Regions from separate parts of the Homo sapiens genome. Here region 2 is linked to region 1. The links come from fine-mapping of genetic effects on gene expression. A gene starts in region 1. The other region holds a variant in brackets. All regions are shown on one strand. Distances are between the middles of the regions.

The links.
Region 2: its variant is fine-mapped to the expression of BTBD6 in whole blood (TOPMed, PIP above 0.99).

What each region holds. Positions count from the first base shown.
Region 1 is chr14:105,247,354-105,250,253 of GRCh38, reverse strand. BTBD6 (BTB domain containing 6) reads right to left here and starts at 1,721. Exons shown (of 4, transcript NM_001387567.1): 1 at 1,169-1,721; 2 at 1,007-1,097; 3 at 776-894; 4 at 1-614. The coding sequence starts at 1,542. All of the region lies in intron 5 of BRF1 (BRF1 general transcription factor IIIB subunit), which reads left to right. RefSeq lists enhancers at 1-513, 1,305-2,095 and silencers at 1,120-1,169, 1,370-1,929.
Region 2 is chr14:105,292,777-105,295,676 of GRCh38, reverse strand. All of the region lies in intron 1 of BRF1 (BRF1 general transcription factor IIIB subunit), which reads left to right. Among named protein-coding and RNA genes, the nearest start is that of BRF1, 6.8 kb to the left of the region's middle. RefSeq lists enhancers at 1,415-1,544, 2,185-2,304, 2,455-2,604. The variant G/C (reference allele first, on the strand shown) is at 1,521.

The DNA of each region.
Region 1 (2,900 bases):
GGTAGGCAGAAGACTGGAATCGGTGGCACCTCTGCGGGGCGAGGCCCTTCCTCTTGGTCAGGGGAAAGTCCAGGCGGGGCTTGTTGGTGGCCGTGTACCACAGGAAGATGCTGTGGGTCTCCTCCAGAGTCAGGATGTCTGACTGGGCAGCGCCGTTGGCAAACTCCTCTAGGGTCATGGTTGGAATTCGGACCAGATAGAGGGCTCGCCCCAGAACATGCCTCTTGTTTCGTGGGGTGATTGGCAGCCCCTGCCTCTTGCACTCCGCCTCGGCCCAGTTCAGGACGGCCTCGAAGACCACCGCCTCTTTGGTGTTGAGGGCCTCCCGAGTGACAATGATCTCCAGCGTCTGCCGGTCTATCTCACAGAAGCCTTCGGACCGTAGGGCCATCTCGGCCTGTGCGTCAATGACCTCCCAGCAGCGCTGCGTCAGCTCGGGCTCCTCAAACAGCCGGCTCTGGGACAGCAGGACGCAGGCGTTCTTGGCTTCCAAACTTGTCTCCAGAAAGTTGACACAGGCTTTTGCCAATGCTGGGACGATGTACTTCTTAGCAGCGTACAGAGTGGCCAGCACCGTGTCGGCTTCCAGATCGATCTCATCACTGTACATGTACCTAGGCGAGGCAGGGCCCGCGTCAGGGGCTGGCTCCCAAGCACCCATCGCGGGGCTGGGCCTGGGAGAGGAGTCCATCAGCTCCTGTGTGCTTCCCTTCAGAAGCCTCCGGAGGCCGCCTAAAACGGACCCACCCGTCCCTCCCCAGTAGAGTGGACTTACTTTAAGAGGATCAGAAAGGCTGCGGGCTCCACGTCTGGAATGTGAATTTCAGATTTGACTTCCGCCAGGTCTCCGTAGAACATGGCATAGAAGACGGAGCTGCCGACAGCCAAGACGTACTGGGAGGAGAAAGCGCCGCCGTGAGCCTGGCTCTCCCGCAGGCTGCGTGTCAGCCACACGGCGGACGGGGCGGACGGGGCACGCGTTCCGAGAGGGGCCGCCGCTACCCACCTTGTGGGCGGGCACCGTCCTGGTCGCCCCCGGGGGCCCCACGACGAAGTGCACGTCGGCCATGAGCTCGTTGTTGAACATGAGCGCGTTCCTGCAAAGGTAGAGGCACGGGCTGGGGGCGTGGGCGCGCGCGGGCGCGGGGGCCGCGGGGCACGGGCTCACCTCTCGCGCAGCGTGGGGCGGCAGCACCGCCAGCCGGGGCTCTCCTGGTGGTTGTTGCCGAGTGTGGGCGGCGCGGGCGCGGGCGGCGGCGGCGCTGGCGCGGGGGCGCTGGGCGGGCTGCGCGGCCCGGCCTTCCTGCCCACGGCGGCGCCGGCGTTGCTGTTGGCTAGGTCCGCGGCCGCGGCGCTGGCGGGAGCGTAGAGTTCCGCCGCCATCTTCGCGGGCGGGGCGGCGGGGGCAGCCTCGGCGCCTGTGGACGCCGCGCCCCGCGCCCTCGCGCCGCGCCGGGGCCTCGGGAGCGGCTCTGCAAGCAAAAGCAAGGAGGTCAGGCACTGAGCGACGCGGCCGTGCAGGCAGGCTAGGGGCAGCAGCATGGGCGGCGGCGGCGCTGTGACCCGCGGGGCTGCCACCCGCTCCCCTGCCACCCCCGCCCCTGCGACCCTGCCCGAGCCCAGCCTAGCGCAGCCCGGCCAGGCCCGGCCGCGGGGGGCGCCGTCCCGCCCGCCCGCCCGCCCGAGCCCGTACCCGCCGCGGCGCCGGTGCGTCACGCTGCGTCAGGGCCGCGCCCCGCGCGACGTCGCTGCCTCGCGGCCCCGCCCCCAGGCCCGACATCCTCGAAGCTGCTCGAGCTTCTGCCCAGCAACCGGCGCGAGCCGCGCGCTGTGCAGAGGTAGCCGTGGAAGGCGGCTCCCGGCGCTGGCAGGCGGCCGCCCCCAGACCCGCAGTGCCATGCGCAGGTGCTTGCGCCCGTTCTTCAGTTAGCGATCTTTTGGTTAGGAACGCAGGTGGACCTGCTTGTTTGGCCATTTGCATTCCGGAGTCTGCCTCTGGCCGCGGCCTGTGGGATGGTCGTTGGGCTTCCTCGTTCGTTCAGATGCTTCGCGATTTAGCTTGCTACGGACGCCAGCAGCCAGCGCTTGCAGAGAGCGCGGTCCACTCTGCTCTGAGGGCTTTACAGGGGCAGGCGCTGCTATTTCCCGGCATTTTCCTCGAGGAAATAGGCACAGAGAGGTTAGTCGCGCGCTGAAGGTCACACAGCCGGCGGGTGGGCAAGTCAGGATCTGGCCCTGGGCCTGCAGCCCTGGAGCTTGGGCCCCAGGGCGCGCCCTGCCTCTGTGGCTCTGCCTGTGGATCGCAGTCGCAGGCTCGCTCCTTGTGGGGCCTCTAGCCTCCCGGCCTGGGGCTAATCCTGGGAGGTGCGTGGCATGGGGCACTGGCTTTGCTGATGAGGAGACCAGACTTCAGAGGCCGTGTCACCTGGCCTGGGCCGCACAGCTGGTGCATGCCAAGCTCGCGTGCAGACGAAGCTCCAGAGGCCTGGCTGTCAGGAGGGTTCCTCCCCGAGGACACACACGCAACCTCCTGGACCGCCAGGCTTTAGACTTTTAAAACTTCCATATGCAGGAAACCCCACAGGACGCAGCCAGCATCTCGGGTCATGGGTGCACCTGTCACCGCAGTCCTGGGCTAAACAGTGAACAGGAGCTCTGTGTCTCTGTGGTCGTTACAGTTGTAGTGAATGTTCCCTGGGAGAGTCCTCTTCAGAAGATATTTGCGGTATTTTCAACAAAGGACTCTCCAGGATGGAGGAGCAACTACAAGTCAGGAAGGAAAAGGCTGACAACCCAGTTTTTTAAAAAACGGGCAAAGGACGTGAACAGACACCATGCAATGGCCCAGAGTGCACAAATCATCATTTCTCCCAGGAATGGGGTGCCCGAGCCCCCAGGCG
Region 2 (2,900 bases), 45 kb before region 1:
GAGTAGCTAGGACTACGGGCATGCACTACCATGCCCAGCTAATTAAAAAAATTTTTTTTTGGTTGGGGAGACAGGGTCTAGGGTCTTGCTCAGTCACCCTGGCTGGAGTGCAGTGGTCATGGCTTACTGCAGTCGTAACCCCCTGGGCTCCAGTGACCCTCCCAGCTCAGCCTCCTGAGTTGCTGGTACTACAGGTGCGCCCTACTATACCCAGCTAATTTTTGTATTTTTCTTGTAGAGATGGGGTTTTGCCATGTTGACCAGGCTCGTCTGGAACTCCTGGGCTCAAGTAATTCTCCCGTCTTGGCCTCTCAAAGTTCTAGGATGACAGGTGTGAGCCAACGCCAATTTTTTTTTTTTTTTTTTTTTTTTTGTAGAGATGTGGTCTTGCTTTGCTGCTCAGGCTGGTCTCGAACTTCTGACCTCAAGGCATCCTCCCACCTTGGCCTCCCAGAGTGCTGGGATTAGCGGCATGAGCTGCTTTGCTCAGCGCCGGATGTTCTGTTGAGGGTTCCTGCTGATGCTTGCGTGGGATATTGGCCTGTAGTTTTTCCTGTAACGTCCTTGTCTTGGGTATCAGGGTTCTGCTCCTTATGGAATGGGTTGGGAAACGTTTCCTCTTCTATTTTCTGGAAGACATTATGTAGAGTTGGTGTTCTTTCTTTCTGAAATGTTTGGTAGAATTCACCAGCGTAGCCATCTGGTCCCAAAGCTTTCTTTCTCAGAAGATTCTGCACTGTGGTTTCGGCTTCTTTCATCACTGAGGTTCTAGTTATATTTAAGATGCTGTGTTTCACCTGGGGTGAATTAGCCGCTTGTGTTGAGGAATTGGTCCACTTGACCTAGTTGTTGAATTTGCCCAGAGAGTTGTTCGAAGCATTCCCTTATCCTTTTGATATCTGCGGGGTCCACAGTGGCCTCCTTTTTCCTTTCAGATGTTGGTGTTTTGTGTCTTTTTTTCCCTTTGTCTCTCTTGCTAGAAGTTGATCCGTGTTTTTGATCTTTTCTAAGAACTGGCTTGGGCTTCATTGAGTTTTCTCTCCTGCTCTTCCCTCCCCATCGTCTTCCATGCTCATACTCCCTGGGTATCTTCCTAGGACTGCTGGGCACAGAGTTTGCAGCTGTGTCACAGTTGCCAAGACTTGGATGTCTGTTGGGATGATAACAACAGTAATGAAAGCAAGTTGTCATGGCAGCAGACGCAGGGTTTCCCGGGCAGGCACAGTGTTAAGTGCATCCGGGCCTGGTGACAGCGCACTGCCCTCACTGTGCCCTGCCGGGGGAGGATGGTGGTGTGGAGCAGTGCAGAGCTGGAAGTCTGTCACCCGGGTGCTGTCAGAACAAGCTCAGAGCCAGCGCTGTCAGGTGGCCCCAAGACGCCTCTGAGCCCAGGCACACTCTCTGGAGGGAGGCGCAGGCCCAGCAACCAACTGTGGTGGTCCTGGGGGAAGTGCTGCGAGGCGGCGGGTTCTTAGCCCCTGGGGACCGGCGCAGGTGGTGCCTGGGCCGAGAGTGGGGAG[G/C]AGAGAGGGGATCTGTTGCTCTGGGCAGCCCCTCTGTCTCCCAGGCAGGCTCTCTAGGTGCCCACTTGGCATCCTTCCTCCCTCGTCACAGTGGTGATCACAGGGGGCTGGAAACCTTGGTGGCTTCTCAGTTTCCCTGGCACACAAGTAGGCCCCAGCCGCCCCTTCCTCCAGCTTCATCTTGAAAGCTGAGCTTTCTCTCTGAGCTGTCGTTTTCTAGTCCCAAGGCCACTGTCTTTCCTAGGTGTTTTGCCTATTAATTGAGAACTAAGCCTGATACAGCTTCGCAGTTTACTCTGGAATATTTAACTAAGGCATCAGGGCAGGTGACCAGAGGCCTCAGGAGAGTCCCCAGAGGGTCCTGACCTTGGAAGCCAGGCCCCACGGGGGAAACCACACTGGTGCTCCAGCGTCCCGGGGCACCCGAGCAGAGACTGTGCAGAGAGAAGGGTGGGTGAGGACTGAGGCTCAGCGTGGCTGGAGGGGCCAGGCAGACGGTGGAGTTGGGGGCCGTTGGCAGTGCCCTGAGGAGGCCGTCTGCTCCACTGAGGCAAGGCGGGGCTTCCCTGTGAGCCCACATCAGTGTCCTGCACTGTGTGTGCCCTGAGGCTTCCCTCTGCCAGCAGGTGATGGTGATGGCGCCCACACACCAGACATCCTGGGCTCCTGCTTGCAGGGGTCCCTCCTCGTCCTGTGCAAGGAGCAGCACACCTCAGTGTCACCAGAACTTGTGGGGGTGGGGAGCGTTTCCCGTAATCACAACTTTCAGTGGCTTCACAGTTAGAACTTCGAAGCTGGGGTGTCCGTGAGTGCTGCTGTTTTCCGTTTGGGGTCACGATGCAGCCGGACCTAATTTGTGACATGGCTGCATGTCACCTGGCGCTGGCCCTGGAGGGGGACATGGGTGGTGGAGTTGCCCTCGCCTGCTGGGAAGCTCCCTCTGCCTCAGAGAAGGATGTGACCGGCCAGCCTCTCCCTGCGGCCTGGGGTTCTGAGCATGCGCCTGGCCTCCTGGCGGGGCTCTAGTCCTGAGGGTGGAAGGCTCCAGGCTTCTGCCTCTGCTCCATGACCCCCAGAACCCTAAGTTGTGGCTGAAGGTGCCTGCTCTTAGGAAACGGGTGAATTCTGTCCCGTTGCCATCTGGGTGAGGGAGGAAGCTGCTGGTTAGCCTGCAGCGTGACACACGTCCTGTTTTCCGTAACCAAATTGTAATCACTACAAAACCAGCTCCTCCGCAGTGGCCTGGGGAAGGGGCCTGGGCTTGGGAAGGGGTCTGGACCTGGGGAGGGGATGTGGGCCTGGGGAAGGGGTGTGGGCCTGGGAAAGGGTTGCTCCTGGGAAGGGTCTGTGCCTGGGAAGGGGTGTGCGCATGGGAAGGGT